3 separate regions of the Homo sapiens genome follow, and regions 2 and 3 are each linked to region 1. Evidence: fine-mapped expression QTL. A gene starts in region 1. Each other region holds a variant in brackets. All regions are shown on one strand. Distances are from middle to middle. Region 1 holds the start of GOPC (golgi associated PDZ and coiled-coil motif containing). Region 2 overlaps GOPC (golgi associated PDZ and coiled-coil motif containing). Region 3 overlaps DCBLD1 (discoidin, CUB and LCCL domain containing 1).

Region 1 (11,018 bases):
TAGCACAACACCAACACTAGCATGGCTGCTGCTGAAACTGCTATCTTCACTCCCTCTCCAATCCCTACCAAAAGGAATGCTCCCAATCCTGCCTCACTATCTCCATGTTAAAAATTTCAGGTGGATAATTCTAGTTAGCTGAGTCTAGGTCACAGCCCTGTGCTCTACCTGTCACAGAGTCAGGAAAGTGATCATCTGACATTTTCAGCTTATTATGGAAGAAGAATTCTCTCTCTCACCAAGTAACATAAAATGGGAAATTCCCTAGAGGAAGGGAGCTCAAATATGGAGAGTATCCCACATGTAGTGACAAATTTTCACTATAGAAGTCTTTTCATCCTAACTCCCTCTGCTCACCATGGCCACAAAAGCCAAACAAATTCTGAGTGAGTTACAATCATCTGGGGACAAAACAAATACTATCTCCAGCAATTGTTGTGATAGAGCTTTTTGTGTAATAGTTTCACTACACTTTTCTGACTTTTAGTTTCTTTTTCTTTTTCCTTTTTTTTTTCTTTTTTTTGAGACGGAGTTTCGCTCTCATTGCCCAGGCTGGAGTGCAATGGTGCAATCTCGGCTCCCTGCAACCTCTGCCTCCCAGGTTCAAGTGATTCTCATGCCTCAGCCTCCTGAGTAGCTGGGATTACAGGTGAGTGCCACCACGCCTGGCTCACTTTTGTATTTTTAGTAGAGACGGGGTTTCACCACGTTGCCTAGGGTGGTCTCGAACTCCTGACCTCAGGTGATCTGCCTGCCTCGACCTCCCAAAGTGCTGGGATTACAGGCATGAGCCATGGCACCCAGCTGAAATTTCTAATTAGATAACTTATACTTTTCAGTCAAAACTCGAAAAAATAATTATTGTTGAAGGGTATTTGGAATACAACTGTTTCGGAGGCCCTTAGTAGACTAATTTATAAAAAAAAAAACAGAAGGTGATGAAGGAAAGTCTATGTTTGATCCATACAGTCTGACACTTGAGAAATAAACAGTGACTTCACAGTGGACAAAAGAAGAAGAAAACATGAGTAGGAAACTCTGATACTACTGTTGATAAATGGTGGTTTCAGACAAGGCTGAAGCAAACCTGGAGCTGTGGGAAGTGGTAGATGAAGAATGTACATCGGGGAAAAGGGGAAAAGCAGTTATAGTCTGTCTTTGATAGTGTAAAATTTATTATGTTTTGGTTTTAGGTTGAATATACTATACAAAACATAGTATCTAGTAAATTTTAACAATGGAATAAGCAAAAGAATCCTTGAAGCCTAAATTATAATGGATTTATTAGTCAAATAAGCCAGATCATTGTAAAATAAAACTTTAGGTTTGGAAAAGAAAGACTAATATGTAATTTATAGATATCCTAATCTCTGAGGCAATATAAAAATATATTAATATTTAGCTATGCTCTCTAGCATGTATCACAAGTATGTCTTGAAAAGTGAAGTGACTGTTAGTTTCCTAGGTAGAATGATCGAATACCTTAATTATTGAAGTTATCACACAAATAGTTATAGCATTCCTACCACATTCTAGGTCCTGTGTTAGGACCTGGGATACAAAGATAAGTAAGATACAGTTATTGTTGCCAAGGAACTCACAGTCTAACAAGCTCCAAAATAATATGATAAATGCGGTAAAAGATATTTACAGGAAACTAATTGGGGATGGAGCCCATAGCATCATATGAGGAGAAAGAAGGAAGGCTTCCTGGAAGAGGAGGTGTCTGAGCTAATTCTAAATCACTGTACCAAAATTCTCAAGTTTTAAAAACAAGAGAGCAAACAGTTGTCCTGTTTTTTGTTTGTTTTTGAGACATGATCTCATTATGTTGCCCAGGAGGGTCTCAAACTCCTAGATTCAAGAAATCCTCCCACCTCAGCCTCTCAAGTAGTTGTGACTACAGGTGCACACCGCCACACCCAGATCCCTTTGTTTATATAAGGGAAATAATCAGGAGAATAAGGCTAATAAATCCCTTTGGATTCCTAAACTTACTTCTTTAGCATATGTATCTGAAATTTTCAAAACTGTTGGTAATATGAATAATAAATTCAATAAATATAAATAATATGTATGAATACAACACTCCAAACCTTTCCTACATTGATTAAATAAAATGCTAGTGGATTTTTACTTTCTTCATTCACCATACATACAACTTGTTATAGCCACTAACAGCATATACTTAACCCCTTCTCTTGGTAGGGTTACTGGAAACTAAATGAAACACGTGAAGTTAGGTACAGGGCCTGGAACACAGTAGAGTTCAATAAGTGATAATCTCCCTCTCCAGTCCAAGGTGGGTCTTATACACCCTTTTATTACAGTGCCCTTGCAATCAATGATGCTCCATAAATATTTAAACTATACACTGACCCCGCAGTTAATTACCAGTACCTATCAAAGAAACCCTTAGCATCATCTCTCTTTCCCCAATTTCCTCAGTCTCCAACCAATTTATTTTTAGTAATGCCTTGTGACAAAACTCTGTAGGGATAAGTTCCTAAAACAAGAGTGTCACATTTAAGTTATATTTTTTAAAAATCACATAAGCATGATTCATAAAACAGTTATTGGAAGCTTCTGCCAATCCAACTGCAAATAGAAGTATCAAGACTTTAATATCTGTGGAAAAACAAATCGCTCAAGTATTGACATTACATGCAATCTCCAATTCCAGAGTAGGTAAGGATAAGGCAGTAAGTGTAGATAGAGTACACCGACAACAGATGGCAGCACTTGAACATCAAGCCCCGATGATAAGCCCTCCTTTTCACATCCATGTTCTGCTGTGACTTGCAGATTTGCATAACCTCAATCCAGGTGGGCAAAAGATTATGTCTACATACTACAGTAATGAGAAGGGACAACATGACATGAAACTCGTCTGAGACACAGATGAGTCTATGACTTGTTGAAGTTGTAAAGGTAATAGATACGAAGCTGGGTTCTGCAATCTCGAAAATGGGGGTACCCACAAACCATTAGAGCACTGGAAACATATAAACACTTAAAATGTCACTCAGCTGCACCCACACAATGTAGCTGGAAGTTGATTTTTTAAAGAAATGAAATTTATACTCAAGTGTGGTTCATATAAATTAGAGTTACAAGTAATAGAAAATGAGTTATTACAATTTTTGGTAATGGTTCTTATATGTTAATAGATTTGTATATGGTTTCTAACTAGGAAGAAATTAAAAAGAACTTTTGGAACTTACTTGCTAGTTTATTATACTGCTAACTTTTACAAGAAGAAATAGATTCCTTCATTCTTCTGTATTACATGGTTAACAGCAACAACTTAGGAGAAAAAGACACCTAGATTGATATACTACCTCAATCTCTTTCTAGTTTTGTGACCTTACCAAGACACTTAAGCTGTCTGTGACTTTAGCTGTTAAAAAGTGATTACTGGGTGTGGTGGCTCACACCTGTAATCCCAGCACTTTTGGAGGCCTAAGCAGGAGGATTGTTTGAGTCCAGGAGTTCCAGACCAGCCTGGTCAACAAAGTGAGGCTGCAGTGAGCTGTGATCGTGCCACTGCACTGCAGCATGGGCGACAGAGCAAGATCCTGTCTCAACAACAACAATAAAAGACGTGATCATACCTACCTCATAGGATTTTGTAAGGATCAAAGAATTAAAGAAAATAGCATAATGCCTAACACATAGTAAGGACTCAATAATTGAAAGCTATTATAATTGTGGTTCGATGTATTCTCCCCCTGCCCTGCTAATTTTAAATTATTTACTTCGCGTTCCTGAAAATGCATTGCTAACTGTATTATGTGTAGATAAAGTGGCTGGGAGCTTGATAGCTGTAGCAATGTTTTTGCAAATATTGTAGATGAAAATAAAGCTAATTTTGGAAGGGAATGGGGAAAGATGTAAATTTTAGTTTTACATTATTTATTGTGTACTAAAACCTGTATGAAGGTCCCTACTTAAGTCTAAGGTCAGGATCTCATGATCCATTTTGATTAGCTAAGTTTGCTCAAGCCAAAGGACTTTATTGCTTCATGCTAACCAGTCTGCCATGCAGTACAAAGACTGCAATAATAAAATTGTGATTTCTTGCTCCTCAGTTGCCTTGCATCAGCGAAGGGCACACAATGCAGGCTTTGGGTTGTGATTAACCGTAAGGGTCTGCCCCAAGAACAGATAACAGCAGACTGCACTCAGCTAAATATGCTTCTAGGTAATGCAGGAGTTTCCACCAGCCTACTCTAATCACACAGGTTTCTCTTTCCCTTTCTAGGACTGTCTACCCTTGAACTGGAAGTAGGCAGAATGTAAAGAGAGGAGTTGCTGGATACTTTTAAAGGCACTGAAAAATTCAAGTTAAAGTTATAGTTGAGGGGTAGTAGCCTCACTAGCCTATCTTGAGTAAGGGTCATGTCTCATTCATTTTTGTGTCTTCAATGTCGCAACAGAGCTCTGCATTCAATATATTTGTAAATATATGAATTCACAATTTTGATTTTCTGAAATGTCACGTGTGAGGACACTACCAGTTTTCAAATAAATACACCTTTTAAAGTACAGTTATGTGCCAAATAACAAGGCTTCAGCAATGAATGGATCGCATAAACTATGGTGATCCTATAAGAGTATATGACTGTACCTTTTCTATGTTTAGATATGTTTAAGTACACAAATAGTTACCACTGTGTTATAATCGCCTACCGTATCCAGAATGGCAACATGCTGTACAGGTTTACAGCCTAAGAGCAATAGGCTACATCATATAGCCTGGGTGTGTAGTAGGCTATACTATCTAGGTTTGTGTTTAAATACACTCTAGGATGTTCCCTAAGGGATGATTAACCTAAGGACACATTCCTAAGAACATATCCCCATCTTAAGTGAAGCACTACTGTAGTTGCTTTTGAAATGTGTGACCTATGGTGTATTAAGAGGAATACCGTGTGCCAAGAAGTGACGCTAAGCGTTTTACCTTACAACTGAGTTAAGTAAAATTTGGAAACTTGGTTTCGAGGTTAATACATGAAAGGCGACACAGGTAGTATGTGACAGAGGGTAAGAATTGAATCCAGGTCTACCTGACTCTTAATCACAAGACAAAAAGTCTTCTATTAATTCCGCAAAATCTGGTCAGCCGCTTCAATGCGCAGCTTTAGGCAGTCCACACCTGGAATTTGGGGTCTGGTTTACCAAGAACAGCCAGTGTGTACACCCACTCCATCCTATCCAGGAACTGGAATCGAGAAGGTAAAAACGTGGCTATTGCGCATGCTCACACCGCCCTTCCTTGCTCTCCCCTCCCTGACCCTAGATGCCACCGCAGCAACTTTCTGGGAGGATTTTGGAACGGCTCCCGCCAACTGTTAAGTCAAACCGGCGGAAATCCTTCCTTTCTGCGACGTGGACACCTTTCTCATCCTCGGGCCTTTCCAACCAGGGTGCAGAAACCACGCGCCTCCGTTTCTCAGGGATTCAAGCCGTAGTTTGCCAGTTGTTAATATGGCCGCTGACAGGCCGCTCCCAAGCTGAGGCCTTTCATAGGCCAAGATCGCATCCTGTCCCCGCCTATTTTGTCCCTCGTGGCTGCGTCCGCCCAGCTCTTCGCTACGCATGCGCAGCGGGGGCAGGCTGGGAGGTGGGACTGACTGAGTCTTCCGTGTGTCGCCGCCGTTGCCGCCTCAGCTTCAGCCTCGTTACTCCTGCGGTTCTGTGACTGTGCTGCTGGCGTTAACGGCGCGAGGTGAAGGGAGGTGACGGAGTGTGCCCGCGCGCGCGGGGGTCCCCTCAGTCCCAGCAGTTCCCTTCGTGCGCGGGGGGCGGCGAGGGTCTTCAGCAGTCGGGAGAGGCCCTTGACGGCGCCATGTCGGCGGGCGGTCCATGCCCAGCAGCAGCCGGAGGGGGCCCAGGGGGCGCCTCCTGCTCCGTGGGGGCCCCTGGCGGGGTATCCATGTTCCGGTGGCTGGAGGTGCTGGAGAAGGAGTTCGACAAAGCTTTTGTGGATGTGGATCTGCTCCTGGGAGAGATCGATCCAGACCAAGCGGACATCACTTATGAGGGGCGACAGAAGATGACCAGCCTGAGCTCCTGCTTTGCACAGCTTTGCCACAAAGCCCAGTCTGTGTCTCAAATCAACCACAAGCTGGAGGTGAGCCGTGGGTGCTGGCGGCTATGGCATCCAACCCCAGGCTGCCCGGTGGCGTCAGATGCCATTTAACGCTCCAGTGAAACGACCCTAGAAAACTGCCCACCGGGGCTTCAAATGTGATGGGAGAGTGCATGTCTGAGGAGTGAGGTGAGGGTGGGGGACAAAAAGGGCCCTAGACCGACGTGTGAGTTCCCGGGGTACTGTCGTCCACCTTCCTAGTATCTCTCTGAGGAGGAAACTAATTACATACACCAGCCTCCATTGCACATGTTACATTAACAAACCTAACAAAGATTCTCTGTCATGAAAATACCGTAGGCCACCTTTTGACAACTGAGTTTTGCAGATCTGCTTTCACATTGATAAACCGAATTTGTATATGTTAAGACAGATACAGCACTGATTATTTTCATTTTAATTATTCCAGGTCAGCGCCTATGATTGCATACAGAGACATGCATAAACTATTTAGGGGAATCTGATCAAAGCTCTTAGGAAAATTTCGTGGTGCATAACGATAGTATCACTGTCTCGGTTTACATCCATAGTTGGTTGTTAAATTACAGGCAGATACCTCCAGAGAGCTCCCTGCAATTATTGAAATTACTTCTGACCTTGAGTTTTTATATGCTTGTACATTACTGTGTAATTTTCCAAAGTCTGGATTTATTTTTGAGAGAGTGTAAAGAATCATTTGCTTTAATCTCTGATCCTGGGTGTGGGTGAGGGTGGAGTGGCTGTGGTTCAAAAAAACAAAAATATCATATTGTGCAGAAAATTTAAAAAGGACATTATTAAAATATTTAGAAATCAAGATAGATTAACATTATTGCATAAAGAGTACTTTCTAACTAGGCAATTTAAGAGAATGGGTCTTTCTTTTCAAAAAGTGTAATAGATAAAAATGGGATAATCAGTGATGTGCAAAACTCTGAACATGCTTTCCTAAGAAATCATCATTACTCGTTGTCATTGACAGTGCCCATTATATCTATATCAATATGAATGTCAGTTAAACATCCTCTCCTTGCCTAGTGGTCAGCATTCTTTCTCTCCTATTAGCCATGAAATATGTGGCATAATTAATCTTTGATTAACATAGATTTACATATCCAAGAATTGTGGCTCTTCTCCACTGCGAGAACTGTTAATTTCTTCTATCCTTTTTGAAAAGATTAGAAAGTGCTAATATGAAGGTAATCACTTCTTACTGTAGGTAAATGAAAACATCTCTTGATTTCTTTATTGGTAGTAATTTCCACAAGAAAGCTATTTTTCTCAGATAGTGAAATTGCATTTAATGTTTTCTAGAAATAGTACTTTAACTTTATTTCATCTTATTTTATCTTATTATATTTTTTTCAAAAAAGAGATGGAGTGCTTTGTTGCCCAGTTTGGTCTTGAATTCCTGGCCTCAGGTGATCCTCCTGCCTTGGCCTCCCAAAGTGCTTTGATTACAGACATGAGCTACTGTGCCTGGCCATTAGTTCTCTAGCTTTAAACAACAAAGATCAAGAGTAGCCTTTACCACATGGTATAATTCGAATGTGTCCCCCAAATTTCGTGTATGGGAAACTTAATCCTCAATGTGACAGTATTGAATCTCCAATGTGGGGCCTTTAAGAGGAGACTGGATCATGAGTACTCTGTTCTTATGAATGGATTAATCCACTTATAGATTGATTTGTTATTGGATAAATGGATGAATGAGTTATCATAGGAGTGTAGAACTGGTGGTTTATAAGAAGAGGAAGAAAGACCTGAGTAAGCATGTTAGCATGCTCAGCCTCCTTGCCATGTGACACCCTATGCTGCCTCCATACTCTGCACAGATCCCCTGCCAGCAAGAAGGCTCTCGACTTCTCGAGATCTGGCCCCTCGACCTTGGACTTCTCTGTCTCCATAACTGTAAGAAATACATTCCTTTTCTTTATAAATTACCTAGTTTCTGGTATTCTGTTATAAGAAACAGAAAGTGGACTAAAACATCACACGAGAAATTTCATATCATTTACAACTGCAGTATCAACTGGGCATTAACAACTTTTTAAAAATGAAACAATATTTTATTTATTTTTAAAATGACCTAAGGAAACTTTAAACAGGGATTTGATGTCAGATATAAAAATTGAAATTGGGAGGAAGGATAATTTTCTCAGTAGGAGGCTGTGCTCCATTTTTTTTGTCTTTAAATATTTTAGATGAGTATTCAGAATTGTAATAAATTATGCATGTTCTTTTTTCAGAAATTAAAATCACACATTCTGACTTTATGTCCTGGTTTAGGAGGTTGCATTGTTTCTCAAAATAGGAAATGCTAGCATATCACAATGTGAGCATATTTTTTATGCTTGAAACTGTTGATTTAAAGATCATAGGAAAATGGGGAGGGGAAAAATCCTAATGATTTTGGTTTGTTTGTTCATTTGTTTGTGTTTTTTCAGTTACAGTCAACTTGTTTGTCTTTGATGTTAATCTGTACACGTTTAGCAGCTTCTGCCGTTTTTATGGAATCAATTGTGTATTGCTGTGGAAAGAAGTTCATTGTCAGCAGTGCCTTTCAAAGTAGACTTGCTGCTGTTCCATCTACAGAATTTCAGTGGTTGCTCCATATATTGTTTGAAAGCTTGAAACAATTTCCATATTTTCTTGCCCTTTTTTACTTTTTAGGAAAAGGATTGAATTTGTTCTATTGTTTTAATTATATGGACATTAAGACATATTTGAAACCACTTATGGTTTAATATGACAAACGTGACATTCAGTGGTTTCAGAGGTTAATACCTTTAATCATATTACTGTAATAAAATATTTTTATATAATGAAGAAACAGATACCTCCAATTTGGGTAATTTATAATGTAGTTAACATTAAACACTATATTTATTATTAAAATATTAAATTTTGCTGCAAAAAAATCATAGGTTACTTTTTTACTTGAATAGGCTATTAGGGCTATTCTTTTTTATTTTTAATTGACATAATAGTCGCATCTTTTTAGGGGGCACAGTGTGGTATTTGGATACACATAATAATGATGAAATTAGGGTAATTAGCATATCTGTCACCTCAAACATTATTCATGTTAGAAACAATTCAAAACCTGCTCTTCTAGCTGTTTGAAAATATACATTAAGCTACTATTAACTGTAATCATCTTATGGTGCTATAGAATACTAGAACTTTTTCCTCTTATTTAGCCATAATTTTGTTACCCCGGGCTGTGGACCAGTACTGGTCCGTGGCTTCTTAGGAACTGGCTGAACAGCAGGAGGTGAGCAGTGGGCAAGAGAGCATTACAGCCTGACCTCTGGCTCCTGTCAAATCAGTGGTGGCACTAGATTCTCATATAGATTCTCATAGTAGCACAAATCCTGTTCCTGTTGTGAACTGCACATGCGAGGTATCTGGGTTGCCAGCTTCTTGTGAGAGTCTAATGTCTTTTGTTGAAACCATCCCCACGCTGTCCTGTGGAAAAATTGTCTTCCACAAAACCAGTCCCTGATGCCAAAAACATTGGTGACCGCTGTGTTAACCAACATCTTCCTACCCGCCTCACCCTTCCCAACTTAACAGTAACCACTGTTGTATTCTCTACTTCTATGAGGTCAACTTTTTTTTTTCTTTTTTTGAGACAGGGCCTCACTCTGTTACCCAGGCTGGAGTGCAGTGGTGCAATCATAGCTCACTGTGGCCTCCAACTCCCAGCTCAGTTGATCCCTCTGCTTCAGCCTCCCAAGTAGCTTGGACTACAGGCATGAGCTACTATACTCAGCTAATTTTTCTATTTTATTTTTTTTTTTTTTTAGTAGAGATGGGGTTTTACTATGTTGCTTAGGCTGGTCTTGAACTCATGGGCTCAAGAGATCCTCCTGCCTCAACCTCTCGAAATGCTGGTATTACAGGTATGGGCCACCATGCCTGGTAAATCAATTTTTTTAGCTTCTACATTTGAGTGAGAACATGCATTATGTATCTTTCTGTGCCTTGCTTATTTTTACTTAATGTCCTCCAAGCTCATCCATGTGGTCTTCAATGCAGGATTTCATTCTTTTTTATGGCTAAGTAGTATTCCTTTGTGTATATATACCACTTTTTTTTTTTTAATCTTTTCATCTGTTGTGGAAATATAGATTGCTTCCGTATCTTGGCTATTGTGAATAGTGTTGCAATAAACATGGGAGTGCACATATTGTTCAAGATACTGATTTCCTTTTTAGGGGGCATATATCCCTAGTGTATATGTTCTATTTTTAGTTTTTTGAGAACATAGATTACATCTTAAAATTAAATACAAATGATATCCATGTGACTGCTTTTTGCCATAGCAATATTTGGGAAGAGTCATATCTGAGGAGAATGGAATAGCAGAGAATATCAGTGTATTTTGAGGTGGTGCCATTTCAAATTGCTCACATCTCTCACACTTTCCACATGCTTGTGAGTTTTTGCTGTCATGAGCCACTTGATCATGGCTATGCTAGAATCATAGGCATTGATTGGAATAGTAGTGGCACTGTGGAAGAAAAAAGAGAAACTTTTTATCTGAAGAATGTGCCCCCCTTCACCACTTCTATTCAATGTAGTACTAGAAGTCCTAGCCAGAGCAATCAGACAAGAGAAAGAAATAAAGGACATCCAAATGGTTAAAGAGGAAGTCAGACTGTTGCTGTTTGCTGATGACATGATAGTATACCTACAAAGCCCTAAGGATTCATCCATAAAGCTCCTAGAACTGGTAAATGAATTCAGCAAAATTTCAGGATACAAAATTAATGTACACAAGTGAGTAGCCCTCCTATATACCAACAGTGACCAAACTGAGAATCAAATCAAGAATCAGCCACTTTTATAAGACTTGCAAAAAAATTAAAATATTTTG
Region 2 (11,018 bases), 25 kb after region 1:
CGAGCAAACGAGTATGAGAACTGGCTGGCTGCTTTGGCACTGGCAGGAGCAAACTTGGTTCACTTGGGTCTGCTGCACTCCACCCCTCATGGGAGGGAGTGTGTAGGCAAGCAGGTGTAGGAACTGGCCAGCTGCTTTAGTACCTGCAGGAGCAAACTCCATGCAGGCCCTGTGGCAGCATCCAGGTCTGGGTGCCTGCGATCCCAAGGCTCCAGAGGGCATGTTACAAGGTTCTCTTAGCTCTGCTGGACAGAAGTGTATTATCAGCTCACTGCACCTTTTGCCTTTTTGGGGGCAGCTGCCCTCCACCAGTAAGGGCAGAGGGCCAGTGTGATAGCCTTTTTGGGTACCTGCACTTGGTGGGTCCCGAATTCTTGTCTGGTGCCCACGAAGAATGAGGTAATGTGAATTCATGCTGAGAGCCACTTTCATTCACTCAATAAAATTCTCTGCATTGACCATCCTTCATCCATGAATTGAAGGATGGTGAATGCAGAGAATTTTATTGAGTGATGAAAGTGGCTCTCAGCAGAGAGGGGAGCTGGAAAGGGGATGGGAAGGGCATGTCACTCTCCCCTGAAGTCAAGTTGCCTCTCTCCGATGTCCAGCTACCATCTCTGAAGTCATGATGCCTGTGCCCGAAGTCCAGCTGCTTCTCCTCTCTACTGGCTGAGTCTGGGGTCTTTACTGGCACAGGATGGGGGGCAGGGCAGGCCATAGGTAGTTTTAGAAAAAACAACATTTGATTGGTAAAAAGACCTTTTTCAGAAAGAACCAGTCGGGAGAGAGTGGGCACACAGGGATGGAAGTTCTCACTTTGGGCTTCAGCTTTTAGGCTTGAAGATGGGGTTTTGCCGAGGACACACCCCCATCTGCCTAGAATTTCTCTGCCTCCTGCCTCTATCAATGTGTGTGTGTGTGTGTGTGTGTGTGTGTGTGTGTGTAGGGGGGGAGGCAGAGGGAGGGAGGGAGAGAGTGAGAGAGAGAGAGAGAACTTACAAACCACCAAGAAAAATATGGACAACTCTCTAGAAAAATAGGCAAGAGACTAACACAGGTACTTCACAAAAGAGGGTATTCAAATGGTCAATAAACATATGAAAAGGCAGTTAAACCTTATTAGCAATGAGGAAATTTTAATTAAAACCACAACAATATACCACTGCATCCCTACCAGAATTGCTAAAATGAAAAATACTGACAATGCCAAGTGAAGGCAAGGATATGATGCTCTCAAAGTTCTTATACATGGTGGGTATGTCAGTTGCTACAATCACTTGGAAAAGTGACCTTTTCTCCTGAAGTCTAACGTACATACTCTGTAACCCAGAAGCTTCCCTCCTAGATATATACTCAAGAGAAATATATGCAATATGTATCAAAAGATAGATTCATAGCAACATCATTTTAATAGTCAGAAATTCAAAACAACACAAATGCCCATCCAAAGTAGAATGAAATAGAATGAGAAGTAGAATTAAGTTGAGGGAAAGTAGAATGAATGAAAAATAGTAATGTTATATATTTATTTAGTGAATACAATATTGCTGAAAATGAAGTGCAGCTATGCAAAACAAGCTATGAACAAATCTTATAAGCATACTCAAACATTCAAAAATAGGCAAAACTATTTATGGTGTTAGAAGTCAGTGTATACTCTGATGGTTACCTTTGTGGATGAAGGTGGAGGTAGTGATTGGAGCGGGTCAAAAGAAGGATCCTGGGGTGCTAGCACTGCCCTTTTTTTTTTTTTCAAGATCTGAGTGATAGTTAAATAGGTATTTTTTGTAATGTGTTACTTGTGTACTTCCCTGATATGTTTATATATGAATTAAAAAGTTATTTAAAAAAAAGGAATGAAGAAGTTTTATTAATAGGGAGTGATCTCCAGGAAGTAAAAAAGCAAGAGGCAGCCCACTATTTATATTATGCCACATCTTGGTTAATTTATAGCATGCTACTTCTTTTCTTCTACCTCTTGGGCCATCCCAGACCTTGATACTCTGTTCTCCCTGTAACTCATAGGATATGAATTCACATCTCTGTGCTCCTAGTGTTAATCCAGATCCTACCTTTTCACTTATTTATTTTCTTTATTTCCTACATTCTGTGGAATATTTCCTGTTGATTATATCATGGTTGACACAAAATCAGCATGCCTAAAACTTAAATTTATCTTTTTCTTTCTCTCATGTCTATATAAGCTGTCATCCTAATCTTACTGTTTCCATCAATGGCTTCATTATTCTCAAAACTGGAAATACTTGCATTATTCTTGACCTAATCTTCCATTGCACATCCACTGTACTAGATACACTGTAACTAAGTATTGCTAACGATTTCTTTTCAGCATTGTAAAATCCTTTATTTTCATTTACAAAGTTACCATGATAACATGTCATTTGATAAGCTACAAATAGGACGTTGCTACTGTGTCCTTGTCTTCATTTCCTTAATAGTGTTGCTAAAATGCCATTGAGAGAAAATGCTTCAAAATTATGTAGTAACTATGGTTGTACAACTTCATGAATATACTAAAAACCACTATATTATTTACTTTAAAAGAGTGAATTTTATGATATTGAATTATATCTCAATAAAGGTGTTATTAAAAATAAAAACAAAAAATGTCACTTAGGGCATAGAATGATTTCCTGTTAGATTGAATATCAGTTTTAGTTTATCATCCAAAGCCATTCATTGTATTCAGCTTCATTTCTCCTATCGGGTCATATCCAGTCTGTCAGTATACCATCCCTTGAGGTAGTTTAGTCTCCTCGATAATAACATTTTCCTAGTCTAATAAGTTCTTTTGTATATAAGATTAATAATCTTATGAGAATAGTCAAAGCCATGGATATTATCACTGTTTTAAACTGAGGGAACTTGAGACAGAATGTTTTATTGAGAATCACAGGGCTAGTATTAGAATTTATTTCAACTTTACAGATACTTAAATTTGAGCATCTTTTATGCACTAGGCACTGGTTGGTGCAGTTGGGATATAGAGACATATCCCAATTATCTGATCCCTATCTATGCTCAGAGAGGCTTTTAGTCTCTCTGCCACTTTGCCTTTGCTAGTCTTCCCATGTCTATATTTCATTACTGCTTCTATTTTGTCCATGTTGTTGTTTTCCTTCAAAGCCCTTCTAAACTCACTTTCAGTATGAATCTTTTTCTTACTTCCCTTCTTTAAGCCTTCCTTTAGTTTGAATTCCTTGGGACTGGGTCAGTTCTCTCTCTGTATATAACTTGCCACATTATTTTAGTTGGTCCACATGTGTATTTATCAACCCAGTTGATATGAAAGCTTGTCAAGGGCATAAATTATGATCTATGATTTTTAAAAATATTATCTACAATTTTTTTTCTCATTGTGCTGGCATAGTTCTGGGCCCTTAGATGCTTAGCAAAATTATGTTGAGTTGAATAGGAAACAAAGGCATGTCTTGATCTTTAATCTACTGGCTAGCTGGGAAAACCAAAAACACAAGGGACACATCCTGTGCACAATTGTAAAACAATGTATCAATTGTACAAAAATGAAAACTTCAGACTGAATTGGTAAGTGGTCCTGATGAGTTGCTCTGCTATGCTAAAGCTGAAGACTTACAGTTAACTCTGATCTTTAGGCTTACCATAGTCTCAGAAGTTGATACCTTAGCACCTAAAATAACTTTACTAGATAATGATTGGGATGATTTGGGCTAGTATTCGTTGGATTGAAGACAGAACACAACTCACTTACTGACATCTTCTCTAATACTGTTAATGTTAGTGATCCACCACAGCACACATTGTCTCTACCACATGGTGAACCACCTCATAGTTTTGTGTTTTCATAAGCTTTGAAGATAAAGGTGAAACAGTAAAAAGGTTTCTTAAAGTAAGCAAAGTAAAATGGAAGTAGCATTCTGTGTTATTAGAAGATACAGCTTATAGTGGATTTCTCTTGCTACCGAAATATCTGACTTATACTATTGATTTTCTGTCAGTTTAGATGGATGTCTTGTATCTTGGATAATATTATTCTAATGTTTGTGTATTTATTTCAAAGGTAGTCTCTCTGTTGTCATTCTTGAATAACAATTATTAGTCAAAAGAAAGAAAATTAAGCATCCTTAATTTCTTCTATTGTTTTCTTTATAAGGCACAGTTGGTGGATCTGAAATCTGAACTGACAGAAACCCAAGCAGAGAAAGTTGTTTTGGAGAAAGAAGTACATGATCAGCTTTTACAGCTGCACTCTATTCAGCTGCAGCTTCATGCTAAAACTGGTCAAAGTGCTGACTCTGGTACCATTAAGGCAAAATTGGTAAGTAGTTTAGAGAGTGACATGCCCTTGCATGTATTTTACAGGGTGTACAGGACAATTTTGAATGAGACTTTTAAATTATAAAATATATGTGCTTATTGTGGGAAATTTAGAAAATATAAGAAATATAAAGTTTATGATCATTATGATAATCTACAATCTCATCACCTATAGATAATCAGTGATATCAACAATCAACTGATAGAATTTTTCCTATTTAAAATATATGTATAAATATGTTTAAAAGATATTTGTGATTATAACATATAAGATTTTTTTTTGCCCTACTGTATCAGTTGGATTAAATTCAGTTGCATATAACAGAAATCCCAAGTAACATTGGGATTATTCTTGAACAGTACTTATTTTTCTCTGAAATGAAATCTGAGACCGGCAGTCTAGAGTTGATACGGCAGCTCCACAAATATTAGAGATCCAGATTCCTTCCATCACTGTGCTCTGCCATTTTTAGCTTATGGTTTCCATCCTCAGGATTTCTTCATGTCTGCATTTCAGGCAGGAAGAAGGATTAATCTAAGGAAAGGGCAAAAAGATGCTTCTCCATGATGTTAGCCTTCTTTAAAGAACTTATTATTAAATCTTTCTCAGTAATTTTTGCCAGCATTTCATTGACCATCCCCAGCTGCATGTCAGTCTCCTATTGGCCATATGGCCACTTCCAGTAAAACTGGAGTCTGTTAATAAGGAAGAAGTAAGAAATGGAATTGGGTACCAACCAGTAGCACATTCTTTTCTTTTGCTCTTAATATATTGTAAGCATTTTTCCTGCCACTGTGTACCACATATGTTTTGAGTGTGTAAGAGATAGCAGATATTTTGTTCCTATATGGGACACAGCAATAAATAAGACAGCTATTGCTTGGCAGAGGCAGGACATGAAATGATGTTGATGATATAATGAGAGTAATACATTTATAAGTTTTATTTGTTTTCAGTTAATTTCATTTGGTTAATTAGTTCCTAGTACTGATGTGTTAAAATTCATGAAAATAATTTTAAGTTAAACTCTTAAGTTTTCTAACTCTGTGAATCTGTGTTAGAAGGGTTTTATTTAACTGAAATAAAAGCTCATAACTGCTTCTTCGAGCTATTTGACATTAACATTCAGAAACAATCTAAATTTTCTCTAGAAAAGAATTTACCTGAAGTTTTAACATTAGAATTTGAAAGAGTATGATGAAAAGAACACTGTACCAGTTATGTTGACTAATTTTGATAAAACAAAAAGTTTTAATCTAATGCTATTACAGTTACTATTGTTTATAGATTGCAAATATATTTGTTCTAATGAACTTTACCCAAATGATATCCAACATGTGGGATTTTTCCTTATAATGACTATACCACTAAATAAAATCATTTGTTTGATCTTTTTCTAATTATAAAACTTTTTTCTTATATCTGAAGTCTGGCCCCTCTGTGGAGGAGCTGGTAAGTATATTGTTTCTGTTTTGCTTTAATATGTCACGCTGAAGTGTTCTTAGTGTTTTATTTGCATATTATATGTTGTCACTCATTGTATTTGAAAATAGCATTAATAATGGCAATTTTTTAATGTTCCAGTACCTGAAAAGTTCAGTGGATGGCCCATTGCTCTTTTCTCACTGCATGTTGTTAAACATTTTTCTTTTGTTAGTGATTTATAGCCATTATTTGCAGAGCCTGTCAATTTTTGACAATTTTTGAGCCTTGTAGCTTGCTCATACCTCTACTTCAAAGAGCAATTGGTTTTCCCACTTCAGGGTATTGAAGATATATCAAGCAGGCTTAGTTTTTAACCCCCTTAAGTTTCTGTTTGAAATTATTTCCAGAAAAGAATGTGCATGTTGGTTTCTTCTTCATCTACTGC[G/ATGTG]TTACAACTTTTCAAGAGTCTTGAGAATAATCGTATGGCCTTTGAAACAATTGAATTTTGAAATGCTTTAGCAGAAGTTATTTTAGAAAATAACAATACATTTTTAATATTTTTCTCATTACCCCAACCTAATCAAGTTCCAATTTGTCTTATGGCTTTACCTCTTTTGAAGATATAATCTTTGGTATCTAAATGTAAAATGAACATCTTGGGTGTTACCTAGTAACAAACAGGTTAACTAAGAACCAAGAAAATTTTTTTCTGGAAATCTAGAAATGGTTAACTTCAGTTTCCTTCATCTTATTCTTGCTTACCTCTGTTAATTTCGGGCCCAAGAGTTTGTCAGATTCATTAGGGATTTGAATCATTAAAACCCCAGTGAGTGGTAGCTTAGTATGTCTCCCACATTTCATTAATGTAGTATAAATAGCTCATTAAAGTAATTGAAAGTAGGTAATCATCAACATAAAGTTTATTTAGCCCATAAGCCAAAGAAATCTTGGTCTAGGAGTGCTCTTTCAAAAGTTGCATCAACTTTAACATGTCATAAGAAAGATTTTTGTTTGTATCTCCAAACTGGTTTCTTTTGAAACAGATACTTGCCCTTTTAGGACATAGGTTCTGAAATAAGAGTTTAATAATTCCAAAATTATGTTAAAAGGAGGATTCTAGATTGAGTTTTTCGAATCCTTTAAAACCAGTATCTAGAAATTACGTTCTAATCTTTTTTTTCCCAGAAATTGAGTCTGCTAATCTTTCATCTGTTTGTCATATATATAACAAATATTTTTAATCAAAGAAGTGATAAATATATCTAGCATTTAGTAGTTGTCATTAATTTTAGCTTGTATGTGTGTGTGTATATGTAAATATATTTTTTTTAGGATTATCGTATTTATTGACTAGTATTCAAATATATCTATTTTGATGTTGTTCAAAACAGTAGACCAAAGGAGGCACATTAAATTAGTACCAAAATATATTCCATGAATTGCTGAAAATTTGCTTAAATTTGTTTCTTAGCTTCTCAATATCCAGAATAAAAAGGGAAATAATTATGTAAAATAATCAGTGCCCATACAATAGAAACAATACTATTCATCATTTCCTCAAGAGAAACAATTTCTCTGGTGCTAAGGTAGGTTTTTATTTACGTCCTCACAAAAGGGACAAAGGGGGTATAGGGAATAATGTCTTCCACATATTGTGAACAAATGTAACCATGTTTTCATAGGATTTGTGGATTCTGTAAAAGCAGTTCTGCTCAGGATAAATGCAAGTTTTCAGTGTTTACGTGGTTTTTTTGATCTATAAATAACAGTTAAAATGTCTATTGGGGTCCTTATTTAACTCTCAAAAGGGTTTTAGAAGTAAATAGCAGATTCAACTATCCATTGAAGCCACTTTTACTAATATGTGATAACATGAGCTTAGAGTAGACTACTTTTCTTACTATACTCCATATCAGGGTAACCCATGGCGTGCAATTATTTTATCTAGAAGTAGTTCCAAGATGTTATGGTACTAGTTCAAAAGAACTACATCCAGATCTTTGTGTTCCATTTTATAGAGATGATACATTGTTGAACTGTAGGCTTTTGTGCATTTTCAGGAACATGGTCTAGTGCTAAAGAGTTTTTATTTTCATTAAATTATATGCTTTTAAAAATTACATAGGAAAGAGAGCTTGAGGCAAACAAAAAAGAAAAAATGAAAGAAGCACAACTTGAAGCTGAAGTGAAATTGTTGAGAAAAGAGAATGAAGCCCTTCGTAGACATATAGCTGTTCTCCAGGCTGAAGTATATGGGGCGAGACTAGCTGCCAAGTACTTGGATAAGGAACTGGCAGGAAGGTGTGTAAAAAATGGGTATTATTGTACTCTTAAGTGACAAATTGGATATTTAATGAGGTTGACTCTTACTTCTTTCTTTTTTTATTTTTTATTTTTTTGAGATGGAGTCTTGCTCTGTTGCCCAGGCTGGAGTGCAGTGGCATGATCTCTGCTCACTGCAACCTCTGCCTCCTGGGTTCAAGCGATTCTCCTACCTCAGCCTCCTGAGTAGCTGGGATTACAGGTGCCTGCCACCACGGCCAGCTAAATTTTGTATTTTTAGTAGAGATGGGGTTTCACCATGTTGGCCAGGCTGGTCTCAAACTCCTGACCTTGTGATCCATCCACCTTGGCCTCCCAAAGTGCTGGGATTACAGGTGTGAGCCACCGCACCTGGCCTACTCTTTTTTCTTATGGTAAATGAAGCATTAATCTTTTTCCTCAGAATTATTTTACAGTTGGTTTTAACTTACTGTTGTTAAATTAATACTGACAGCATTATGTATCGCAGATCTAGTTATCCATACTAAATATGTTTAGTTTACACACACAAACACTGATAGTATCTTACTGTGAAATGCTAACAACTCTGTAGAGCAGCACTTTTCAACTATTTTGTGCCTTGAGACCAGTACAGCCGATATTCACATGCATAGCAGAACTTCCATAAGGAATTCTTTTTATGATCACTGAAACCCAGTCTTTCTTGCCCTTCAAAAAAACGTGTTGGTATTTAGTTAATGACAATGATTTTATCATAATCATACACAGAATTCTGCTGTATTTATTAAGTAAATTATTAACAAACTTTGGTGACTTATTAGTACTAAATCATTTTGTGCATATTCTTTTAATGTCACATTAAAAACATGGAACAAAGAAAAAATAATTTATATCATCTTGAAGTACAAATTTTCTAGTAACTTTTTTTTTTTTTTAAATTTTGTGAGATGGGGTCTCACTCTGTCGCTCAGGATGGAGTGCAGTGGTGCAACGTTGGCTCACTGCAGCGTCCACCTTTCAGGCTCAAGTGATCCTCCCACCTCAGCCTTCCAAGTAGCTGAGACCACAGGCATGCCACCATGCCTGGTTAATTGTTAAGGTTTTGCCTTGTTGCCCTGGCTGGTTCTAGTAACTTTTAACCACATTTAAAGTAATCATTTTGTGAAAAGAAACTCTAATTAGAAGAAATATTTTTGTCCATTTATCTCATCTAAAAGCTAACATTTAATAGTATCTGAGTTCAGTGACTTTGCATGCAAGACATAGATTGACATTAATCTCATAAATTTTTTTTTAGATTTATTTGAATTAAGTATATGACTAAAGGAGTTCACATTAATTCCTTTAAAAATTTTTTTTACTGGTTTTTCCCTTGAGGATACCTGTTCTTTTCAGAGTTTTCATATTTTTTTTATATCTGAGAGACATCAAGAAGTTCGTGAGTATTAGTTTTATCACTAATTTGAGATTCATGCAAAAGCTACTTATGTTCACTAATTTTCCTGAATTCTCACTGTAGTGAATATAATGAAAAATCAATGTACTCTTTTCCCAATATGAAGGGTCCAACAGATACAATTGCTAGGACGAGATATGAAGGGACCTGCTCATGATAAGCTTTGGAACCAATTAGAAGCTGAAATACATTTGCATCGTCACAAAACTGTGATCCGAGCCTGCAGAGGACGTAATGACTTGAAACGACCAATGCAAGCACCACCAGGCCATGTATGTTTGCTTTGCTGCTGCTTCCCACCCAGCCTCTTCTTTCTTTCTTTAATCACAGTTGCTTTCCATTCTTTCCTTTATTCTAGTATTGTTTGAAACCTTTATTTAAAAGTGAAAATGGGATTCAACTTATTCAAAGTAGATGAAGTTTCAACACCCATAGAAATTTTAGTAGCTCTTCACAGACTTACTAATGCCCTGAGAGTGCTGCAGACAGTGAGCCATTGTTAGCAAATGCATATTGCTATAATGTTGGATCATATTTCCAGTTTTTCCTGGATCATGATTGGGCATGCTTGAATTTGTTTTAATCTTAGCTTAGAGTGTGTGGTCATATTGATAATTTGGCAGATATTTTGGGGTAGTTCTTTAAGGGAACTTTTAGTAACTGAATCCAAATGTAGATTCTGAACTAACATTTACACCTGTTTGGTCTTGGATTAAGATAGAATTTGAGATCTGTAGCCAGTTGTCTGCTTCTGTAGCCACCATTATATAAAAGCTTCTATCTGGATAAATCTTTATTGAATTTTATCATAACAGCTGCTTGATAATATAGACCTTAATATATGAAAGCATGTCTCCCAAGGGTTCACATATCTTAGTACCAGATAATGTATGGCCTTAAATAGTAAAATAGTTTGTTGGCTCTGCAAAGATTTTTGTAAGAAGAATTGGTATGTAAATAGAGTTGGTGGAAGAGAAGTGGGGATAGCGATAAGCACTTATGCCATTGTTTTCTAGGGCACTGGTGGTTCCCATTAACTTCTAGGTCCAGTAGATTTGGGAAATGGAGCGGTTAGGAGGAAGACAAAGTAGTTTGTATCAGATGTGTCTGAGTGATAAAAGCATGCTTGTTAAATTAGCTAAATATGAGGTTGGGGTTTTAGGTAGTGGCTGGATTATAGAAATTATTTTATACTAAATAGAGGAATTTTAACTTTAACCTGATAATCATGGAAGTTTTAAATAAAATGGCAGACTTCATAAAATTTACATTTTTTAATAGTTATTTTGGTATAGTGAAGAGGACCAAGTTGGAGTCAAGGAGATATATTAGAAAGATACTATGGTCATCCAAGGAGAAAGTGATGAGGTCAGGAGAAGTGGCATTTGAGAAGAAGGATAGATTTGAGAGGATTATAATCAGGAGGGCTTGATTGGTGACTAACTGCTTTTGGTTAAATAGTGAAAAAGAAGAGTCTGGGCTTTTAGTTTGAGCAACTGAGTGAGATCTGGCATTCACTGGGAAGGGAAATAGAAGAAA
Region 3 (11,018 bases), 86 kb after region 1:
CCTTGACAGAAAAGGTTTGCTGACTTCCTGCTATATAACAAACTATTTCAAATATTCCTCATTAGTTACAACATGAATGGTAAAAAGAGCTTTAAGTACAAACGTATCTGGTTTAACGTGAAAGAAAACAAAATGTTCAGCAATACACGACTGCAACACAGTTAGGATACCTATACTTACCTGTATTCTGTCTTCAAATAATGGCTAGCTCGTTCCAAACATGTTATTAAATCTGTCATAAATAAAGATAATTGCAATTAATAGAATGAATAAAAACTAGGACACTCATGCTGCAAAGCTTTCTTTTAAAATAAAAGAGTTTTTAAAAAGCATTTATTCACTATGTAGTTATCAGAATTTTCCTTTTAAAAATAAACACTGAGAATCACTGTCTCCAGTATTTAATGAGTTCCTTTCGTTTCTTTTTTCTGCCACCAATGACAGTTTTTCAACACAATCACCTAGTAAATGATAGCAGAATCTGTAGTTAACAGAAAAAAACAATACTCTTTAGTTGCTATCCACTATATGCCTATGAAGACCATGTGTATAATGTCCCCTGGCAGGAAGAAAATAATTTCAAAAGCCCAACACAGTTCACAGAGAAGGTTCCCACAAACATTTTAATTCAACAATTTAGCCAGTGGCATCTGGTGACAGAGAAGCACATCTTTACCAAGAAAACCTACAGCATATAAGCTTTCATCAACCAGGACAAAGCATTTTAAAAAAGAAGGTGCTCTCTGGAGTAATTTACAGAACCAAACTAATATTCAGCAATAGAGGCTAAGATACAGTGGACCTTGATGCATTTAGATCAACATAGTATGGTTTCCAAAATATTCCACACTTACTGTAATAGTTCTTTGGGAGCAATATATGGTGAACACTGGCAATGCAGGCATCTGCTGTGATTAGTCAGAGCTGATTGGCTAAGAGGAAAATGAATGGCGCACCTCACTCCCAGAGCTTTTCTGCCAGAGAGGACTGACAGCAGAAACCTCTATGACCATAGGCAGATTTGGTATGGGCTGCACAGAATTACTCTGAAGCACAAGAGCCCAGGACAGGAGCCCGTGCTTCTCTCTCTCATCAGTGTTCGTGTTTCCCTTCCCTTCTCTCCCATACAAGTTTTCAGCTTTAAAGTTATTACACTGTGTGACACTGACTTCCTCATCCTACACACACTGTGCATGCCTCCCGTGCTGGTGTACTGGCGTGTGTTGCGGAGGGGCTCACTGGTGAAAAGCGTTGCCCCTGAGCTAGGGAGGAGGATGGGGGAGGGCTCCAGAGAATAGTGAAGACTTCGAAGGGTCAGGAGGGGAACACAAAAGTGTGTTATCCAAGGTTTTTAGGAAAAATGAGATGAATCCTATCCCATATAAGTCAACTGATCAATCTAACATGCTAATAAGCTTGTCCAACCCATGCCCCTTGGGCCACATGCAGCCCAGGATGGCCTTGGATGCAGCCCAACACAAATTCCTAAAGTTTCGTAAAACATAATTATAAAAATTTTTTGCAAATTTTTTTTAGCTCATCAGCTATTGTTAGTGTATTTTATGTGTGGCCCCAAGACAATTCTTCTTCTAATGTGGCCCAGGGAAGCCAAAAGATTGGACACACCTGTGCTGCAATATGATTCAGTTCAGACCTAACCATTTACAAAGATACCATGTTCCTCTTCTCCCTCATATCTTAATTCTGCATCTGAGTCCACAATTATGTCCAGGGATGGGGATAAGTGGCAAGAGGAATTCTTAGACAGATAACATTTAGAGATTTGTGTTGATTCTTCCGTTATACCTGGATGGTCGCTGCTCGCATAGGTCAGCAAAAAACCCCGGCCAGAAATGTGGGATCCACTCTCAAAGCGGACGGTTACTTCACTTGTGTTCAACAAGAGTTCTTTGGGAACAGTCATACTTCCACAGTATGGACCTAAAAACAAAGCACACTTGTGGCACATTTCAAAATTTATACCAGCACAAATGACTGGTATATGGCATTTTTTTCCTTGAAAGGCCAAATTTACTAGACAATACATATGTATGATTATAATCTTTACCAACTGAAATTTAGCTTGACGCTCAGACTGATAATTTCTGACTGATTGTGAACTAAGCCAAGGGGGAAAGTGGCTTACTCTAGACAAGCAATAGGCTGGAACTAGTTAACTGTGAGCAACCCAAGAGATAGGTTTTGTTTTTTGTAAAAAGAAGACAAAGGTCAAACACATTAGGTAGTAAAGAAAATTTTATTACAAAAATGTTATTCTAGGGGCCTCCTAAATTTGCTCAAATAAACTAAAAAAATCATTTTTTCGGGGAAGTTTTAAAGTTAAAAGACTTTGCAAAGCATGGTAAGAATTTTATTCACATGCAGCATTCACATGCAGCATACACACTGATTTTCCTTTACAGTAACTTCTGGTTAATCCCCAAAATTCATTTTGATTTATAAAATGTACATAAAAGCAGAATAATTTCTAAAGCATTTTGAAATATTATAGTACAAAATTATACAATTAAGGGTATAACATTGTTTCCAAAATAAGTTGCTTGAAAAGCAATAGGGATCTCAATGAACTTTCAAAGGGCAAAATTACATTTGGAGCTTAAAATAACGAAAACTCTTCCTAAGACTACTCAAACTGAAGTTTAGCTTTTAACTTGTCATTTCGAAAGTAACATACGCAAGACAATCTCTATGAAATAGAGATTAGCAAGCAAATTTTGAAGAGAGGTATTATTTATTAACTTTTCTCAAAAACAGTATGGAAATAGTCAGCGGCAACAACAATCATGATGAAGGAAGAAGAATAAAAGAAAAAGACTGCTCCAAGTCAATACGAATAAAACCGGGTTATATTAACCAGAACCAATAGGGACAAAACTGCTTGATATGGTTTTGCTGTGTCCCCACCTAAATCTCATCTTGAATTCCCATGTGTTGTGGGAGGGACCTGGTGGGAGGTAACTGAATCATGGGGGAAGGTGTTTCCCGTGCTGTTCTCATGACAGTGAATAAGTCTCATGAGATCTGATGGTTTTTTAAAAAAGGAGTTCCCCTGCACGAGCTCATTTCTTTTGTCTGCCACCATATGAGACATGTCTTTTGCCTTCTACCATGATTTGAGGCTTTCCTAGCCATGTGGGACTGTAAGTCCAATTAAACCTTTCTCTTGTAAATTGCCCAGTCTCAGGTATGTCCTTATCAGCAGCATGAAAACGGACTAATACAGTTAAGTTGGTGCCAGTAGAGTGGGGTGCTGCTGAAAAGATACCCGAAGATGTGGAAGTGACTTTGGAACTGGGTAACAGGCAGAGGTTGGAACAGTTTGGAGGGCTAAGAAGACAGGAAAATGTGGGAAAGTTTGGAACTTCCTAGAGGTTTGTTGAATGGTTTTGCCCAAAATGCTGATAGCGATATGGACAATAATGTCCACGCTGAGGTGGTCTCAGATGGAAATGAAGAACTGGTTGGGAACTGGAGCAAAGGTGACTCTTGTTATGTTTGAGCAAAGAGACTGGTGGCATTTTGCCCTTGCCTTAGAGATTTGTGGAACTTTGAACTTGAGAGAGATGATTTAGGGTATCACGTGGAAAACATTTCTAAATAGGAAAGCATTCACGAGGTAACTTGGGTACTGTTAAAGGCATTCAGTTTTATAAGGGAAGCAGAGCATAAAAGTTCAGAAAATTTGCAGCCTGACAGTGCGATAGAAAAGAAAATCCCATTTTCTGAGGAGAAATTCAAGCCAGCTGCAGAAATTTACATAAGTAATGAAGAACTGAATGTTAATCCCCAAGACAATGTGGAAAATGTCTCCAGGGCATGTCAGAGGTCTTCAAGGCAACCCTTCCCATCACAGACCCAGAGGCCTAGGAGGAAAAAGTGGTTTCCTGGGCCAGGACTAGCATCCCTGTGCTGTGTGCAGCCTAGGAACTTGGTGTCTTGTGTCCCAGCTGCTCCAGCTATGGCTGGAAGGGGACAACGTAGAACTCGGGCCAGGACTTCAGAGGGTGCAAGCCCCAAGCTTTGGCAGCTTCCATGTGGTGTTGAGCCTGCAGGTGCATGGAAGTCAAGAATTGGGGTTTGGGAACCTCCACCTAGATTTCAGAAGACGTATGGAAATGTCTGGATGCCCAGGCAGATGTTTGCTGCAGAGGCCCTCATAGAGAACCTCTGCTTGGGTAGTGCAGAAGGGAAATGTGGGGTCAGAGCCCCCACACAGAGTACCTACTGGGGTACCATCCAGTGTAGCTGTGAGAAGGGGGCCACCAGACCCCAGAATGGTAGATCCATTGCACCTGAAAAAGCGACAGACACTCAACACCAGCCTGTGGAAGCAGTGGGGAGGGAGGCTGTACCCTGCAAAGCCACAGGGGTGGAGCTGCCCAAGCATGGGAACTCACCTCTTGCATCAGCATGACCTGCATGTGAGACATGGAGTCAAAGGAGATCATTTTGGAGCTTTAAGATTTGACTGCCCCACTGGATTTCAGACTTTCATGGGGCCTGAGCCCCTTTGTTTGGCTAATTTCTCCCCATTTGGAATGGCTGTATTTACCCAATGCCAGTACCCACATTGTATCTAGGAAGTAATTAACTTGCTTTTGATTTTACAGGCTCATAGGCAGAAGGGACTTGCCTTGTCTCAGATGAGATTTGGACTGTGGACTTTTAAGTTAATGCTGAAATGAGTTAAGACTTTGGGGGACTGTTGGGAAGGCATGATTGATTTTGAAATATGAGGACATGAGACTTGGGAGGGGCCAGGGTCGAAATGATAATGGTTTGGGTGTCCCCACCCAAATCTCATCTTGAATTCCCACGTGTTGTGGGAGGGACCCGGTGGGAGGTAACTAAATCATGGAGGAAGGTCTTTCCCATGCTGTTCCCATGATAGTGAATAAGTCTCATGAGATCTGATGGTTTTAAAAAAAGGAGTTCCCCTGCACAAGCTCTTTTCTCCTGTCTGCCACCAGGTGAGACGTGCCTTTTGCCTTCCACCATGATTTGAGGCTTCCCCAGCTACGTGGAACTGTAAGTCCAATTAAACCTTTTGTAAATTGCCCAGTCTCAGGTATGTCCTTATCAGCAGCATGAAAATGGACCAATACACATGCTAAAGAGTCAGAAGATCGTGACCCAACTAAGCATTGCCCTTCTGGTATAAAGGATCCAATTTCTCTCTGTTTCAAGTTTCACATACTGAAGATGTGATAGAATAAGAAAGAAATGCTATATGCTTACCCTCACATGCCAAATTTCTAGCATTTCCTATCACTAAATTATGGTGAAATCTAAATAAAAGATGTTCACTTCCCTCTTTAGAAACACTCATCATACGTAATTACTTACATGAGTTAATACTTTCTTTTTTTTTTTTTTGAGATGGAGTCTCGCTCTGTCCCCAGGCTGGAGTGCAGTGGCATGATCTCGGCTCACTACAAGCTCCATCTCCTGGGTTCACACCATTCTCCTGTCTCAGCCTCCTGAGTAGCTGGGACTACAGGCACCCACCACCACGCCTGGCTAATTTTTTGTATTTTTTTTTTTTTAGTAGAGATGGGGTTTCACTGTGTTAGCCAGTATAGTCTCGATCTCCGGACCTCGTGATCTGCCCGCCTCAGCCTCCGAAAGTGCTGGGATTACAGGTGTGAGCCACCGCGCCCGACCAATACTTTCAAATTACTTAGAATAGTACTCAGCACATAGTAAGAGCTATATAAGTGCTTGTTAAAAATGAATATATTAAAAAATAAGTAATACCTATTTTCTCTTCAGACTGTGTTCCATAGTGCAAGGAACTTTTATATCCATCCCTTTATCTCCAACAGACTGCATAGTACCTGGCAGGTGACAGCCTCCCACAAACAGTTTGAATTGAATTGAAATGCTCTTTTTACAACAGTTTCTAAAAGCCAAATCCAACTAAGAGATTCATAAAATATTTTTAATCGTGTCACTTTTAAATACTATGGAGAAGTCAGGAAGAGAAGTGTAAAGAAACAAGAAAAAAATTTCTGTAATGAATAATATGGATTTTTATAAACTTTACTCTTGCTCACAAGCACAGCAGATAGGCAATTCAGACTAAATAAGTAGAATGATAAGCATTTTTGCAAAGTTAAGGTGAGTCAGATTGCTGTACTTGCCTTTTCCAACTTATTCTGTTTGTTTTAGATATGTTTGAAATTCCTCTGTTCTTTGCACAGATAAGAGGGGTGAAGACACTTGCTTTGTAAACCTAAGGATGAATATTGTGAAGTAACTAGTAACTTGTTGCTTTTAATAAGTTAGAATATTTTCAAATCACATTTTTTTATATTAACCCAGTAATACACCCCTCCCCAAATGGTGATGATGATAGTAATCTCTCCTTAAATTTCTATAGCATTCCAATGAGTTCTAATGAAAACTGTAGGTGGCCAGGCACGGTGGCTCACGCCTGTAATCCCAGCACTGTGGGAGGCCAAGGTGAGCGGAGTCAGGAGGTCAGGAGTTCGAGACTAGCCTGGTCAACATGGTGAAACCCCATCTTTACTAAAAATACAAAAAAAATTAGCCGAGCATGGTGGTGGGTGCCTGTAATCCCAGCTACTTGGGAGGCTGAGACAGGAGAATTGCTTGAACCTGGGGGGTGGAGGTTGCAGTGAGCCAC[G/A]ATCCCACCACTGCATTTCAGCCTGGGTGATAGAACAAGACTCCGTCTCAAAAAAAAAAAAAAAAACCCACAAACTGTAAGGTAAGCAAGTCTAAATTGATTATCAGTGAGAACTTGCTTAGATTTTTTTTTTTAGATTTTATGAAACAGTTGAAAGGAAAAGTTGCAAAAAGTATACATATTTTACACAAATGAGAGTGTATACCATCATACTAAGTTGTTGTGCAATATATATGATTTCCTAGACCAAAAACATGTAAATATAGTAAAACTCTAATTTGGTTTCATCCTCCCAGTTATGATAGGCATGTAACTATTTCTGGAAGCAGATCAAAGAAGGAAAATGTAAACACATGCCCCTTTAATTACCCTTACCACACAGACATCAATCCCTTTCATATTTTTATTACTGTGCTGCAAAATTGTAACTAGAGGGGTAGGAGATACCCTCTCTATATAAATATCATCATTGAGAGGATTTTTTTTTTTTTTTTTGAGACAGGGTCTTTCTCTGTCACCCATGTTGGAGTGCAGTGGCGTGATCACGGCTCCTCCTGGGCTCAAACAATCCTTCCACCTCAGCCTTCCAAGAAGCTGGATTACAGGTGTGTGCCACCATGTCCAGCTAATTTTTTGATTTTTTTTGTAGAGATGAGGTCTCACTACATTGCCCAGGTTGGTCTCAAGCTCCTGGCTTTAAGCAATCCTCCCATCTCAGCCTCCTCAAAGTGCTGGGATTACAAACATGGGCCACAGCGCCTGGTCTGAAGAGTTATTTTGATCATTTCATCATAATCACAAACATCAGAATAGCAAGAATGAGTTTTAATTCAGGGTGGGGGATAAGAGTTGAATACTGGCTGTAGTATTGCCTATGGCAAAACATCCAAATTATTGCCTGTCTCAAGGTCTGACAGACGAAAATTCCTTTCATAGACTAGAAGTTAATAATTACATTCCTAGAGTTAAAAGGCAAGAAAGAAAAATGGAAAAATATGATAGCATTGAGAGGGAAAAATAATTAATGGGAAACCACGGAAAGACCCTGGGAGTCTGTCCTAAGCAATGTCCTCAGTGCTCCGCCAGACTCCTTTAAGGATAATCTCTTGTCTTATGAAAGAAAATCTTTCTCCACTCACCCCTGCCCACGTGATATACTTCACTGTTGGTACTCTCCAAAGGTCTCCTGACTTTTAAAAAGGATCTACACCTATATTTAAATGTTTACAAAGACAATTTCACTGGAAACCCACATGAGAGCGCGGTGACTTCTAACTTTGATTGTGGTTATATTCTTGGGCTCAGGCAGTGTTCTTAGATTGGCAAAAATACTTCAATTCAGTCAGACTGAAATCCAACCCCTTCCTAAAAATAGGATGCACAGTTTTGCATGGATGTTTGCTTCAGAACCAGCAGTGCTACGTGTTTTATAGCACTTGGACTTGCCACCTAACTTCCTACTATTCTCTCACTTCTATCTATCCCTGTCTGCAAGGCAGGTTCCATCTTACTTTGCAGTCACAAATTCCCATCACACTGGAGTGCAGCAGTTAATCAAGTAGGCAGAAAAATCAGGAAAAAAGAAAAACTTTTATCTTTTGTGGAATGTAACTGGCGGCCCTATATTGTGGGAAGAGCTATCAGAGATACCAAATGGAACAGCACTGTGGCATTTGGCACCAGACATGAGACTCCAGCAGACAATGGGCTGATTCCTTGGACAAAGGGAATAAAGGGCCAGGAACTGTAGGAGTTGCCTTCTTTGAGCACAGTAGGTCAGTTCCTCTCAGCACATTCCCTGTTTCGGGCTACTATTTCATTAGCAGCTGCAAGGGAAACCCTTTATCTTTCCATGTGTGAATAAAAGAAAGCTGTCCTATAAGGAAGAATAAACTGTCTGCTACAAGCCAAGTCTGAAATCCTCTTGATTCTCTGGCAATCTGACAATCTGTACAGCAATGTATAGTACTTCTCTATTCTCCTGGACTGTGTGCCCAAGACTCTGGGCATTACAAGGCAATGATGGTTTGGTTAAAAACTGTTTGTTCCAAGTCACTTCAGATGGATATAAGGTTTTGATCTTAAAACTAATAAAACTAAGTTATTGTTTTATATATAGAAGGGACATGTTTGAAAAATAGTATGCATGTCATTAGAGAAACAAAGAAACCTCTTTCCCTTAGTAGTATTATTTCTGATTTTTTTTTTAACTACCATACTGTCAGTGGGAAAAACCACTGAGAGATCAAATAAAAACCTAACTCCTGAAAGGTCTGTCATAAATCGACAACAACAACAACATAAAACCTCCAAAAAACCCTCATTAACCTTCTGGAGCATCATCTGAAGCACACAATTCTTTCTTATGACAGATAAGAACATGCCTGATTGACCTAAGTGACCCTCCCTGGGAGTACATGTGGGTGGAGACAGCCACATGGAATATTTGGCTGCCAGGCGAGTGGTACTTCTCGTGGCCCAGATCTGTGCTCAGAGGTATGCTGATAAAACAATCTCCAGAAATGCTGAAGCTGCAAACACCATTAGATTTGTGTCCATTTTCAATTTGTTTTTGATGCAGTCAAATCGCAGATTTGTCCTTGCTTGCTAATTGCAGTAGGGTCATTGTACAACATTACAGAATTTTCAAGGCCATTTTCTTTGAAAAGGAGAGAAATTAGCATAAAAAAGGGATATTCCTGGACTGTGCCATTAAAACCATAGTCACGTAACAGTAAGTGGTATCCCTGGAGAATTTTGGTCTCTCATTCCCACACAAAAATCAGTGACAGATGATAAATGAAGCAGGCGGATTCTTAGACAAAGGTGTGGCTTTCCTTGGGGCTACAGGACCCAGGTCAAGAAGTGTGTCAACGCTGGGAGTTCACAACCCACTTAAGCCATTACTTCTCTCCCAATGAAAGATGGCAATTACTGAAACTGAATCACAGTGAGTCTCCAGGGAAGTATTTATGGGGAAAGAGGAGGAGGAACCCAATAGCTTTTTCTCCTTGAGGCTTATGGTTGTGTTAAAAAAAATACCTAGAGTACAGCATTCTGGCTGATATAACGTTTTATATGTTCAAGATTCTTTCTGAATTCTATCTTGGCATAAAAGGCAAAATAAAACAAACAAAGAAAAAGCAGTCCTTCTCAATAATTTCCACCAAAGTAGCCTCAACCATAGAGGAGGACGCACTTCTAGGGTGTCTGCAGCCCAAAACAGCTCTCTGTGAGCTGGAAATTTCCTTGAAGTCTATTTGTTTTATCTTTAAAAGCCATAAAAATTTTTCCTTCTACTTCATAATATGTCTGAGAGACATATAAACCATTTGTAAAACAGAGACTGTCAATCTTGCGCTTTCCCCTCTTTGGGATTTAAAAAACTTCAACAGATAAGTTGTAATTATTAGATCTTATTGCAATATGTCAGATATGTATCATTCTAAAAAATGACATGCAGAAACCTGTTGTGATTATGAGTCTAACCACTTCGCATTATTTCCAACTATTCCTATTTCTCTCATTCCTAGTGTAACATAAACATTAACAGTTGACTTCACATGATTGTGCTTCTAAGTCACTGACAATGCTTAAAAAAATATTGTGATTGGAAGTGGAGGTACAGAAAACGTAGGAGAACAATTTTTGAACTTCCTGGTGCAAATCATTATGCAGAACACAACCAATTTAACTTCCATTAGGATCCTATAGTAAAGAGTTTCTTTCTATCACTGGCCACCATGCCTCCTCTTAGCATTTTGACTAAAAAACATTTTTTGAACTTTCAACTTATACTGGAACTCTACGTAAGTGATTTCTCAGACTCCCACTTTATTCTCCGGATACTCCTGTGGAGAGGCCTGGAGAAGTTTCCATTTCTTCCAGCAAGTGACGAACAAGAACTACACCTCAGGTCTTCTTATGCACAAGCCACAGGAACAGATGGCTTTCAACACAAACACTGAATCGGATGGTGCAGAGCTAAAGAGTAGGGCCTCTGGGCATTTGAGCAGGGCCTCAAATGCCCAGACTTGAATCCCAGGTCCCGCTAAGTGATCTTACAAGCATGTTAGTTGGCCTTCTTTGAGCTTCAGTTTCCTTAGGTGTAAAGGTTGGTAACAGGACCTATCTCACAGGGCTGTTATAAGGGTTAAATGAGGTAGTAACGCTAAGGTTTACTAAGCCCAGTGCATCGCACATAGTTGAATGCTCACTCACAGGCACCTTCCACATTATTACATGGTCTTTTCCACATAATAAGCATAGTTTTAAAATTTTATGTAAACCAAAGCTTTCTTTAAATGCAGAGGGAATGTTTATAGAGGAATCTTAGTGTAAATTTCCC

Evidence for each region. PIP is the estimated chance that this variant, and not a neighbour inherited with it, causes the effect.
Region 2: its variant is fine-mapped to the expression of GOPC in skeletal muscle (GTEx, PIP above 0.99). The same link has a PIP of 0.9 or more in esophagus muscle and tibial artery.
Region 3: its variant is fine-mapped to the expression of GOPC in whole blood (INTERVAL, PIP 0.99).

Annotation. Positions count from the first base shown.
Region 1 is chr6:117,597,122-117,608,139 of GRCh38, reverse strand. GOPC (golgi associated PDZ and coiled-coil motif containing) reads left to right here and starts at 5,629. Exons shown (of 9, transcript NM_020399.4): 1 at 5,629-6,136. The coding sequence starts at 5,852. It also overlaps the pseudogene NEPNP. RefSeq lists enhancers at 5,238-5,527, 5,658-5,747.
Region 2 is chr6:117,572,200-117,583,217 of GRCh38, reverse strand. It overlaps GOPC (golgi associated PDZ and coiled-coil motif containing), which reads left to right. Exons shown (of 9, transcript NM_020399.4): 2 at 4,154-4,318; 3 at 5,747-5,770; 4 at 7,866-8,041; 5 at 9,586-9,751. Among named protein-coding and RNA genes, the nearest start is that of GOPC, 25 kb to the left of the region's middle. The variant G/ATGTG (reference allele first, on the strand shown) is at 6,189.
Region 3 is chr6:117,510,739-117,521,756 of GRCh38, reverse strand. It overlaps DCBLD1 (discoidin, CUB and LCCL domain containing 1), which reads right to left. Exons shown (of 15, transcript NM_001366458.2): 3 at 1,807-1,941; 4 at 181-232. Among named protein-coding and RNA genes, the nearest start is that of DCBLD1, 34 kb to the right of the region's middle. The variant G/A (reference allele first, on the strand shown) is at 6,671.